3 separate regions of the Homo sapiens genome follow, and regions 2 and 3 are each linked to region 1. The links come from fine-mapping of genetic effects on gene expression. A gene starts in region 1. Each other region holds a variant in brackets. All regions are shown on one strand. Distances are between the middles of the regions.

Region 1 (4,236 bases):
AAAAAAAAAATCCTGTGTCACAAGTAAGGCAGAAATTAAGAGACTACTTAATAATGTGATAAAAAATGGTGAGGCCCTAAATTACTTAGGTGAAATGAAGATGAGATGGATAAGAGTCTAAAGGACTTGGTTGTGGGTGAGGAACAGCAAGGCATCCAGGATGACTCTCCCTTGGTGACGACTTGGTGGTGAAATAAAGGCCACAAGAAAGAAGACAAACAAGTGGGGGCAAAGAGGAAAGAGAAATGAGAGAGTTGATGAATTCAATTCAGAAATGATTTGAATTTCATTTAAGCCAAAGAAAACCCAGTTATCTTTTCTGGGTTCCAGTTTTCTCAGTGACAGCTGCATTCATGAATTACCAAATTAACTATTGTAGCACTCTCTAAAAATATACAAAGCACTCTACCGTATGCTGTAAATAAGTCATGAAAAATCAGCAAAAGCTCGAGCCCTGAAGGAAATTCAGCAGGGTTAAAAAGAGATATGGCCAATGTTTACTAAACACTTAAACTGTGACCCAACACACTCACCCAGTACTGTAAGTACTCACTTAATGTCATCAACAGATTTTTGGAAACTGACTGTAAGCAAAATGACATATAACAAAACCATTTTTACCATAGGCCAATTGATATAAACAAAAGTTAAGTTCCTATAACATATTTCTGGTCACAAAAACATCACCAAACTCCTAAATACAAACCAAAACACTTCTAATATTAAACATTGAAATAAATGGGAGCTATACATACATTTAAGGAAGATTAATAAAAACAAGTAAGATAGTTATTTACCTAATTATTCCAGTTCAGGGTCGAGGGTGGCTGAAGCCTATCCCCTCAGCTCAGGGTGCAAGGTGGGAACCAACCCTTGGACACGACGACATTCCATCGCAGGGAGCACTCACACTCACACTCAGACAGGAAACACAGACAAGGCCAATTCATCCAGCCTGCACTGAGATGTGGGAGGCAGTACCCTGGGGTACCTGGTGAAAACCCATGCAGACGTGGGGAGAAGGGGCAAGATCCACACAAACAGTAGCCCCGGTAGGAAATTATTATTTTTTCTCATCAAGTTATACAAAATGACACTGAACGAAAAAATGCGATTCAAGGACCTGCTGTACTGTACTTTTTGCTCTGCCAGTCAGGTGCGATCGCTGGCTTTCTTTGAGCACCTATGAACAAGAGGTAGCATGCCCAAGTCCACGTGGGAGATACAGCGGCCCCACCCTTAAGGGACTTAGAGCATGGCGGTGGGACACATGTGGTGCAAGCTTGCTGAAAGTTTAGTGTGCTGGGAACTTTGAACATACAGGCAGGGCTAGTTAACAAAGTATATCTTTTACTTAGAGACATCGACGAGGAATATCTTAGGCCGTCCAATAAGAATGTAAGCATTTCATATTTTATTCCCTATAAAGAAAAAAGAATGGAGGCGAGAGGAAATGAAATGAAGCAATTATCGCAAAACCAGTCAGTGTCCCCGCAGGCCACCCAAGGACAAGCCTCCGGGAAAGAGTAACTCAATCCCAGTTTGGAGGGTGAAACTAAGAGTGAATGGGAAGCCAGCATCTTCCTAATACAAAAGCACAGTTTACCGTCCCCCTCAGCCAACATGCGGCTGAAGGGAAAGCCGCGGGGCGTACCTTTAGCACGGGACGCTGCTTTGGGGGGATCGCCCTCGACACAGCGCCCCTCCCGGCACCTGGCCAGAACCTCCCAGGGCGAAGGTCGGGGCCGAGAAGCTTGTGAGTACCGGGGCAGTGAGGGAGGGATCCCTAAGTGCAGGGCGCACACACGGGGCGGAGACCTGGAGGCGGCAGCACCGCGCCCCCAGGGCTCTGCCCAGCTAGCCACTCGCAGCACAGAGAAGCGCGCCCGCAAGACAGCGCAGCCTCCGCGGGCCGGAGGAGGCGGGGCCGCGGCAGGCAGAGGCAGGGCCGGGCAAGCCCTCGCTCCCCGCCGCCTGACGGGAATTGTAGTTCCTGGGAGAAGCCGGGCTGCCTCACGAGGCACTAGGAACTACATTTCCCGGTGAGAGAGCGGCTCCGGCCGGCCGCGCGGTACCGGAGCGTCGCACTGTCAGCGGCCAGAGAGCCTGGGGCAGATCGAAAAGGGAGTGCTTCTTCCCTTCTCTCCGCGCTCTGGCGGTGCAAGCGGCTCTGCTTTCCCTCGCCCCGCCGTCGGGTGCTCCCTGCCCGCCTCCCCGTGTCAGCTTTCCCTGGGCCCCGCCGGGAAAGTCTGGGCCTCGAAATTCGAAGGCAGCGGCGGCTGCCCAGCACGGGAGTGTGGGGCGCGCCACTCGGCGGCCCAGCCTACCCAGGGCCCGGCCCGCGCCTCCATGGGCCCGACCCGGAAGCCCAACGTGTGCAGCCGGCTGAGTCGCCGGGCGCTGGGCTGCTTCTCGCGCGACGCAGGCGTGGTGCAGAGGACCAACCTGGGCATCCTGCGGGCGCTGGTGTGCCAGGTGACCGCCAGCCGGCCGGGGCGGGACGGAGGGCCGCGGGCGCGCGGCGGCCGAGCCTCCTGCGGGGATGCGGTTTTAACGCGCTGGGGCCTCCCTTTATAGGGTCACATGTGATGGGGAGGAGGATACAAGCCCGGAATCTGGGATAGGTGGTAATAGGGCCACCAGCTGCTTTTAGTTTTACGCTTCTTATGTCTTACCTGGAAACAATTATTCTAAAAGTTGGTCACCTCATTAAGCCAAAACATGAGGGCAGAGTGGAGGAAGGATGCAAAAAGTTTTAAAATAATATAGGTGACATTATGTTGCTTTGAAAATTTAAAATCTAACTTAAAGCCTAAGAGTTCTTTCCTGAACGGAAATTCTTTATGTCTTTTAGGAAAGTACTAAATTTAAGAATGTCTGGACAACTCATTCCAGGTCACCTATAGCCTATGAGAGAGGAAGAATATATTTTGACAATTATCGGCGCTGTGTCAGCAGGTAACTTTTTATTGATAATTTTGCTGTAATTCACCTCACTGTTGATCTTAACTATAATTTGTATAGAACCACATGCCTACATTAGTGCCTAGTGAAATAGAATGAAAAAAATGGGTCCGAAATAAGACTAGGCAGTAAAAAATGCATGTAATTTTAAAATCTTGTTAAATCTAAAGTTGCAGGTGTCATTTTTGTAAATACCAACTTAAAGCAAAACTACAGTGCAGGCAAAACCACAGATTGTTCAGAGTACTGTTTAGTGTTTAGTCTACTTATACCACAGTCAAGAAATCCAGTTGCCAATCAAATAATTAGATGCTGCTTTGGAGAATTGATGGATTGTGTTTTGGAAGTACTTGCCTTTTTTTTTTTTTTTTAGAGAAATTTTTTCAAACAAAAGCCTAGTATTTAGAGATCCAAAATGTTTAACAGTCAGCCTCATCCACAACTGTCCAACATGAGGGGGGAAGGAAAGCCACAATGCATCCCCATATACTCATTACCCAGATTCAAAAACTATCAAGATTTGCCACATTTGCTTTATCTAACCCACTTTTCCTTTTGCATGACCTCTTTTAAAGCATATTCTAAACATACATCAGTTTGCATTTTTAAAAAAATGAGCTTTTTTTATAGGCTTTATTAGGATATAATTCACATACCATATATTTACCCATTTAAAGTGTACAGTTCAATAATATTTAATGCATTCACAGATACATGTAATCACTACCACAGTTAATTTTAGAGCATTTTCATCACTTCAAAACAGAACCATGTACCTTTAAGCAGTCACCTCAGTACCACCATTACCCTCAGCCCTAAGCAACCACTAGTCTGTTTTCTGTCTGTAGATTCACCTATTCTGTACTTTTCATATAAATGGAATCATATAATATATGGTCTTTTGTAACTGGCTTTTTCACTTTGCGTGTTTTCAAGGTTCATCCATGTTGTCACATGCATCAGAATTCCTTTATAAAGTTGAATAATATTGCATTGTATCAATTACCACATTTTACGTATCCGTTTATCAGTTGTTAGACATTGGTGTTTCTACCTTTTAGCTATTATAAATAATGCTGCTATAAACATTTCCATGTAAGTTTTTATGTGGGCATTTATTTTCACTTCTCCTAGATTATACCTAGGAATGGAATTGGTAGGTCATAAGATTATACTGTAACTGCGTTTAATAGTTAGAAGAACTGCCATACACTTTTCTAAAGTGGTAGTACCATTTTATGTTCCCATAAGCAGTATATGAGGGTTCTGATT
Region 2 (4,236 bases), 130 kb before region 1:
AGGGACTAAGGAAATAGAAAACAAGAGAAATATAAAGAATCAGAGAGGAAGATTTTAGGGGAGAAATTGCTTCTACATACAATCTGTAATTTCACATTAATAGTCATATATTAAGGTTAAGACCTACTCAAATTTAATAATCTGACTCTGTTTTTTACAACTGTAAACGAGCTCACTATCCATGGTATTCTCCATGATATTTTTCTCTTAGTCATAACTCAGTGGTTCTCAAGCCTGGCTAACCATCAAAATCTCCTAGAGAATAAAAAACATCATCTGTACAGAGGAAACAAACAAACAAAAACAGACACAAAAAATGCAAAAACATAACACACACCAATGCCTAGGCCTCCCATAGATAGATGAAATCAGAATCTGGTGGTGGATCACAGGAATCAGTAGGTTTGCTTATTGCTTTTAGAGAGAGACAGGGTCTCACTCTGTTGCCTAGGATGCAGTGCAGCAGAGCAATCATGGCTCACTGCAGCCTTGAACTCCCGGGCTCCAACAATCTTCCCACCTCAGCCTCCCAAATAGCTGGGACTACAGGCGCATGCCACCATGCTGGACTTATTTTTTTGCCTGGGGGTGGTGGGGGGTTGGGGGTGTGTGTAGAGATGGAATCTTGCTATGTTGCCCAGGCTGGTCTCAAACTCCTGGTCTTAAGCAATTCTCCTCCTCCCAAAGTGCTGGGATTATAGGCATGAGCCACTGTGCCAAGCCAAATCAGTATGTGTTAAAAGCTTCTCAGGTTCTTCCAATAAACAATGAGGGTAGAGACCCATTGTTCCAACAAGAGCAGTTAGAATCTTTCTGGAACGGTTCTAATTTTAATGTAATACAGATCACCTGGGGATCTTATTAAGCTGCAGATCTTGATTTGCTAGGCCTGAGTTGGAGATTGCGAGGTCGAATTGCTAACAGCCTCTCCTGGTGATGTTAACGCTAATAGTCTGCAAACCACCTTATAAAAAGGATCTAGGAAAATTAAGACAGGTGGTTAATTCCAGAGTAGAGGGGCCAGAGACAAGTAACTAACAACAACAACAAAAAACTTTTTTTTAACCTTAACAAAAGGGTAAAAACAAAAGTATATAGGACCTCTTTTATTTTATTTTATATTTTTTTTGAGACTGAGTCTTGTTCTGTCACCCAGGCTGGAGTGCAGTGGTGCAGTCTTGGCTCGCTGCCTCCCAGGTTCAAGCAATTCTCCTGCCTCAGCCTCCCAAGTAGCTGAGATTACAGGCGCCTGCCACCACACCCAGCTAATTTTTTATGTTTTCAGTAGAGAGGGGGTTTTACCATGTTGGCTAGGCTGGTCTTGAACTCCTGACCTCATGATCCGTCCACCTCGGCCTCCCAAAGTGCTGGGATTACAGGCATGAGCCACCACACCCGGCCAGGACCTCTTTTAATACAACCCAATTTATTTATTTATTTATTTTTTATTTTTATTTTTTGAGACGGAGTTTCGCTCTTGTTGCCCAAGCTGGAGTACAATGGCGCAATCTCGGCTCACCGCAACCTCCTCCTCCCAGGTTCAAGTGATTCTCCTGCCTCAGCCTCCCGAGTAGCTGGGATTACAGGGATGCACCACCATGACTGGCTAATTTTTGTATTTTTAGTAGAGACGGGGTTTCTCCATGTCGGTCAGGCTAGTCTCAAACTCCCGCCCTCAAGTGATCTGTCCACCTCAGCCTCCCAGAGTTCTGGGATTACAGGCTTGAGCCTCTGCGCCTAGCCTATGACCCAAATTTTTAACTTGGTCACTGCTATGGTTGGAATGTTTGTATCCCCCTAATATTCATATGTCGAAATCCTAACCCCTAAAGTGATGGTATTAGAAGGTGGGCTGTTGGGAGGTGATTAGGTCATGAGAACTAAAGGGATTAGTGTCATCATAAAAGAGTCCTGAAGGAGCTCAGTTGTCCCTCAGCCTCCCAAAGTTCTGGGATTATAGGTGTGAGTCACCATATCTGGCCAAATCCTCCAGTGCCTTGATCTTGGATTTCCCAGCCTCCATAACTGTGAGAAATACATTTCTGTTGTTATAGCAACCCAAATGGGCTAAGAGAGTCGCCTCATCTAAACATGAATTACAGTCAACGAAATGCTAAATTGATAGCATGGACTTACCTATATTGCCTCCTACCTCCCAGGTTTGCTGTATGTGA[C/T]CGCAGTCATGTCATAATAGTCCAGAAGGGCCTGCTGTGAGTGACACTCCCTAGCACCAAGCTTTAGGCTATGCAGTTGGAGGTGACATTTGGATTGAAATAACAGATAAGCTGAAGTCATAGGTAAGAAGATGAGCATGAACTCTGAAGGGAGATTTAAGACCAGAAAATGGGAAATGAGCACTTTGGTCAGAGATCAAGAGGCAGCTAGGTGCAGTGGCTCATGCCTGTAATCCCAGGACTTGAGGAGCCTGAGGCAGGAGGACTGCTCGAGCCTAGGAGTTTGAGATCAGCCTGGGCAACAAAATGAGATCCCATCTCTACCAAAAAAAATTTAAAAATTAGCCAGGTGTGGTGGTATGTGCCTGTAGTCCTTGCCACTCAGGAGGCTGAGGCAGGAGGATTGCTTCTGCCTAGGGATTTGAGGTGGCAGTGAGCTATGATCACACAACTGCACTCCAGCCTGGGAAAAAGAATGAGACTCTGTCTCAAAAAAAAAAAAAAAAAAAAAAAAGTAAGAGGCTGGAGAGACAGAAAAAAATATAGTTCTTAAAATGCCAAACTTGACCCTCAAAGAATGTTGAGGTTTTTCTCCTATGGTGTGCCAGGCACACTAAGAGGGAGGTCATGTGTAACTCCTTTGCTTCAGGCTCTCTCCACTTGTCCATCACCAACCACAAGGAGTAATGGAAGGGCTGAACTTTCCCAGGTTTGCTTGGCAAAGAGTTGTGATGATCCCAGAGCATACTGTGGGGTGGAGTGTTATGAGAAGGTTCTGTGGTGGTGGGAGTCCAGGATGTCTTATAATTAAGTCCTTCCTCTGGGACTGGATGACAAGAGTATATGCACAGTGCCAGGCACAGTCGACATCGGCTGGCCATAGTGAGAAACGGTGGAAAACAGCGTGGTGTATATAAAAAGTGGATGGCGGCCGGGCACGGTGTCTCACGCCTGTAATCCCAGCACTTTGGGAGGCTAAGGCGGGCTGATCACTAGATCAAGAGATCGAGACCATCCTGGCCAACATGGTGAAACCCCGTATCTACTAAAAACACAAAAATTAGCTGGGCATGGTGGCATGCACCTGTAGTCCCAGCTACTCGGGAGGCTGAGGCAGGAGAATCCCTTGAACCCAGGAGGTGGAGGTTGCAGTGAGCCAAGGTCGCACCACTGCACTCCAGCCTGGCAACAGGGTGAGACTCTGTCTCAAAAAACAAAAAACAAACAAACAAAAAAAAAACAAGAAAGAAAGAAAGAAAAAAGTGGATGGCAAGTCCAGGGAGCTAGAAATAGAGGGCAGAAGTTCATAGTTTTGGAAGGCCAGACTGAACACTGGGCTAGCTGCTTTTTTTTTTTTTTCTTTTTTGAGACACAGTCTCGTTCAGTCACCCAGGCTGGAGTGCAGTGGTGGGATCTTGGCTCACTGCAACCTCTGCCTCCCGGGTTCAAGCAATTCTTCTGCCTCAGCCTCCTGAGTAGCTGGGACTACAGGCACGCACCACCATGCCCGGCTAATTTTTGTATTTTTAGTAGAGACGGGGTTTCACCATATTGGACAGGCTGGTCTTGAACTCCTGACCTCGTGATCCGCCTGCCTTGACCTCCCAAAGTGCTGGGATTACAGGCGTGAGCCACTGCACCTGGCCGCTAGCTGCTTTTTTAAAAATTGTGGTAAAATGCACATATAATAAAATTTACCATCTTAACTATTTTTAAGTGCACAATTCAGTGACATTAGTACTTTCACATTGTTGTGCTACCATCAATATTGGGCCCATCAATATCATCCATAGAACCCTTTTCATCTTGCAAAACTAAAACTCTGTACCCATTAAGTGACAATTCCCCATCCCCCTGTCACCCAGCCCTGGTGACCACCATTCTATTTTCCATCTCTATGAATTTGACTATTCCAGGTACCCCATGTAAGTGGAATCATACTATATTTTTCCTTTTGTGATTGGCTTATTTCACTTGGCGTGATGTCCTCAAGGTTCATTCATATTGTAGCATGTGTCAGAATTTCCTTCCTCTTTAAGGCTGAATAATATTCCATTTTATG
Region 3 (4,236 bases), 190 kb before region 1:
CTCCAGGTAGCAGAACAAAGACCCAGGAGTAGAAGTGAGAGGCAGATTTGTGTATGTTGGTTCAATATAAAGTAAAGTTTCCTAATACAGTTATTCTAAAACAAGATAGGCTGCCATACTAAGAAGTAATTTCTCCAAAGTAGACATGTTCAGGCACAAGTAACAATATTGTAGAGTGAATTCCTGCCTCGGTGGGGAGAAAGGACTAGGTGACCTCTAGACTTTCCACAATCCCATGGCATTTGATGGGACTAAAGGAGAGCTCTGCTCTGACAATCAGTGCTCTAGAGAGCTACTTGATTCTGATTGCTTGTCCAAAGACTCAGGAGGAAATCAGTTCTTCCTGGGGTATCCGGACCCACCAGACATTGTCAAGGCTTTCTTTCCATTATTGAATCCTCTCCGCAGGCTAGTATCAATTATTACTCTGCCTTTACAAATGAAGAACTGAGGCTCAGAGAATTTGTGTTACCAGTCTTAATTATAATAGAATCCAGTCTTGTCTGTCTTGAAGACTGTGTTCTTAATCATTTTATTACACTGAAACACTGATTACAAATGTATCAACATATTTAGGCACTATATAAAATCAAACAAACTTTTAAAATAGTCAAACAGGTCTTGATACACATTTTTGTTACTATGTCATTTAGTTGCCACTTCATAACAAAATCTTGATTTTTCTCTTCTAGTTTTCAAAAAAATTCTTCTTTTTCCCTCAGTTTTAAAGCTTCCAGGCCTATGACATGCTAGGAAGAAATCACTCTTTAAAAGTCCTAGTAGACATTACAGGGTTTCTCCCATTGTGTACATTAATTCAGAATCTTGTGGAGTATGACTTCCATGTCCTTAAAGGCAAAGTCTTTCTCCAATATCTCTTTTCCTTGCTCTTTCTTCTTTCTGTTCAGGAAAAATTATTCTCCCCTCACCCTCCTTTTTTCTCTTCTACTACTATCTGAAGTCTCTGTCTAACCACTTTGTTTCCTTTCTTTTTTATTTATTTTAATATATTTTTTAAAAAACTTGTTTTCTTCTTTTCCTTCTATTTGGAGACAGTGTCTTGCTCTGTCAACCAGGTTGGAGTGCAGTGGTATGATCATAGCTCACTGCAGCCCCATGCTCCCGGGCTTAAGTGATTCTCCCACCTCAGCCTGCTGAGTAGCTAGGACTACAGGCATGCCCTACCATGCCCAACTAATGTTTTAAGTTGTTTTTGCAGAGACAGGGATCTCACTATGTTGCCTAGGCTGGTCTGGAACTCTTGGCCTCAAGCAATCCTCCTACCTCAGCTTCCAAAAGTGCTGGGATTACAGGCATGGGCCACTGTGTCTGGCACTGTTTTCTTTCAATGAGAAAAAATTTACTCTAGTAACTAAGTTACTAATTCATTCAATTAACCTTCTCCTTAATCACTTCTCAATTGGCTTAAGTGATTTCTTTGCTAAACCCCGCAGTTTTACAATCTGCTCTGGCCAACCTGCATCTTCAGAGAAACTTACAAAAAATCAGGGGGGTCTCTCTGGATCTATTCTGGTTCTGGGGCTGCCCAATTAAAAAAACAAAAAGAAAATAATCAAAACACTTTAAATACTTTTTTTTTTTTTTTGGAGACAGAGTCTCACTCTGTTGCCCAAGCTAGAGTGCAGTGGTGCAATCTCAGCTCACTGCAACCTCCGCCTCCTGGGTTCAAGCAATTCTAGTGGGTCAGCCTCCTGAGTAGCTGGGACTGCAGGCATCTGCCACCATGCCCAGCTAATTTTTTTTTTTATTTTTAGTAGAGACAGGATTTTACCATGTTGGCCAGGCTGATCTTGAACTCCTGACCTCTGGTGATCTGCCTGCCTCGGCCTCCCAAAGTGCTGGGATTACAGGTGTGAGCCACCGTGCCTGGCCAAGGATTTTTAAAGGAAAAGAAGAGACACTTCCTGAGTTGGTTACCAAGAATTTCCATTCTTTTTGTTGTCGTCGTTTTTAATCTACTCATCAAAAAGGAAAATAATTTCTATTCAAATAACATAAGTAGGTTGGGCATGGTGGTTTATGCCTGTAATCCTACACTTTGGGAGGCCAAGGTGGGAAAGATTGCTTTAGCTCAGGAGTTCAAGACCAGCCTGGGCAACATAGTGAGACCCTGTCTCTTAAAAAAAAAAAGAAAAAAAAGATAAATAAAATAAGCTATTGATTGGCTATATACTGTCCTTGGTATCATGAATTCCAGGAACATGAAGACAGCAGGAGAGGCAGCTAGTTAGGAACAAAATGACTTTAAACAATACCCCCAGGCATGAGTAGGGGATGACTGCA[A/G]GCCCTGCACTGTGTCTCTCTGGGCCTGCAAACCTCACAGAGCTGAGAGCTCTTTGAGCTGTTTTTCTTTTCTCAGAACCATTTAAACATAAGTTATACCATGATAAAGACATAGCCATAGGAAGTCCATACAACTCAATTGATTTATATTCTCCAAAATGGTGTCATCAATTAAAATGATGTAGATGGAATCTGATTTTCCCTTTTGAACCTGTAAGAAGGCGATGAAGTGTCTAAGGCCCTGAAGCCCATGATTTAATGAATGCTGGGTATTTATTAAAATGAAAGAAGCAAAAAACTGGAAGGAACTTTAAAATCATCCAGAGACTCCAATTCTTCTATTTTACAAATATGGAATAGCAACCTCTTACTCCATAGTCAATAAATTATATATCTAATGCTGAATAGTGTAATCTAAATAGTAATTAATCACACCCAACTTCAAATTTCATGATAACGACTTATGCATACACTACAGGAAAGTCTCTTTTAATATTCTTCATAATTTTTTCCTTGTTTTGATTGTAGCAAAGCAAAAATGAAAGGATTGCTGCAAGGAATCTTGGGCCAAGGAACTGAAAATAACTTTTTTTTTCTTTGAGATGGAGTCTCGCTCTGTTGCCCAGGCTGGAGTGTGATGGCACAGTCTCGGCTCACTGCAACCTCCGCCTCCCAGGTTCAAGCGATTCTCCTGCCTCAGCCTCCCGAGTAGCTGGGATTACAGGCATGCGCCACCACGCCCGGCTAATTTTTGTATTTTTAGTAGAGACAGGGTTTCACCATGTTGGTCACGCTGGTCTTGAAGTCCTGACCTCATGATCTGCCTGCCTCGGCCTCCCAAATTGCTGGGATTACAGGCATGAGCCACTGCATCTGGCCGAAAATAACTTCTAATGGAAATTTTGACAAAGCTTCTTCGGGAAGTAACTTTGGGGGAAATTTTGGGGGTGGTCTTTGCGTACATGGTTCAGGAAAGTTTGTCTCACTGTCTAACTTCATAGCTTTATAAATCAAATTAATGGTGTTGAGTTGTGGTATAATATAGTTGGTCTTTATTTGCCTCCAGTTCCTGGCACAGAGCTCCTAAATTATTAGAATTTCTTGAGTGATAGGTGTATCTTTTGTTATTCATAATGAGCTCCTTTTGACCATACTAGAGTTTATGTTAATGAGGTGACTCAGGGTGGCCTTAGATAGATTTAGGTTGGGGACTGGTCCCCAGAAAGACCAAACATGGGATCAGAGGGTTGAACATTTAACCCCACCCTCCAACCTCCCGGGAGGGGAGAAAGGCTGGAGATTGAGCTCAATCACCAATGGCCAATGATTTGATCAAACACACCTACAAAACAAAGCTTTGATAAATACTCTTGAACAGTGAAATTTAGAGAGCTTCTGGGTTGGTAACATTGATGTGGTGGGAGAGTGGCACCGTGGAAGAGGACATGGAAGTGTGACTGTAACAGGTTCCTTACCTAAAGCATGGCAAGTGGACACACTGACCTCAAGGATTGCAGCAGAGAAAGGGTTTAATAATCATAGGGCATCTGAACAAGGAGATGGAAGGAAACCTCAGATTTGCCTCCCTGAGGAGTTTGTAAGGGGTTTGGAGTGGGCTGAGGTGTGGGGATTGCAGGGTGAAGTCATGGACTGGAGAGATGAAGAAACTGCATTCTCATGTTGATTCAGCTCTTCTGTGGGGATTGCAGGGTGAAGTCATGGACTGGAGAGATGAAGAAACTGCATTCTCATGTTGATTCAGCTCTTCTGTGGGGATCCTCAAACTGGTTGTGGATGTCAGCTGTTCTGCTGGAATTCAGGATCTGAAGAACATCTTAAGCAACTCTTAAACAAAAGCCTCATGATTCCAACATCCGAAATCCCATCTATAGAAACAATGTGGATGCAAATGGTCAGTATCCAGTGCTATGT

Direction of the effects. Positions count from the first base shown, and alleles are read on the strand shown. Sizes are in standard deviations (SD) of each study's normalised expression. Not every link is listed here.
For the expression in esophagus mucosa of the gene that starts at base 1,762 in region 1, T is the high allele of the variant in region 2 and C is the other (small effect, 0.16 SD a copy in GTEx).

The links. PIP is the estimated chance that this variant, and not a neighbour inherited with it, causes the effect.
Region 2: its variant is the best candidate, but not a certain one, in a credible set for the expression of METTL8 in esophagus mucosa (GTEx, PIP 0.50).
Region 3: its variant is the best candidate, but not a certain one, in a credible set for the expression of METTL8 in blood mononuclear cells (TOPMed, PIP 0.55).

The regions. Positions count from the first base shown.
Region 1 is chr2:171,432,229-171,436,464 of GRCh38, forward strand. METTL8 (methyltransferase 8, tRNA N3-cytidine) reads right to left here and starts at 1,762. Exons shown (of 10, transcript NM_001321154.2): 1 at 1,655-1,762. It overlaps DCAF17 (DDB1 and CUL4 associated factor 17), which reads left to right and starts at 1,998. Exons shown (of 14, transcript NM_025000.4): 1 at 1,998-2,475; 2 at 2,855-2,958. The coding sequence starts at 2,350. RefSeq lists enhancers at 996-1,165, 1,143-1,703, 1,376-1,445, 2,265-2,824 and a silencer at 1,756-2,665.
Region 2 is chr2:171,301,749-171,305,984 of GRCh38, forward strand. No RefSeq gene overlaps it. Among named protein-coding and RNA genes, the nearest start is that of METTL8, 130 kb to the right of the region's middle. The variant C/T (reference allele first, on the strand shown) is at 2,175.
Region 3 is chr2:171,240,818-171,245,053 of GRCh38, forward strand. LOC107983995 (a long non-coding RNA gene) reads right to left here. Exons shown (of 3, transcript XR_923576.2): 3 at 3,816-4,190. Among named protein-coding and RNA genes, the nearest start is that of TLK1, 82 kb to the left of the region's middle. RefSeq lists an enhancer at 3,486-4,236. The variant A/G (reference allele first, on the strand shown) is at 2,305.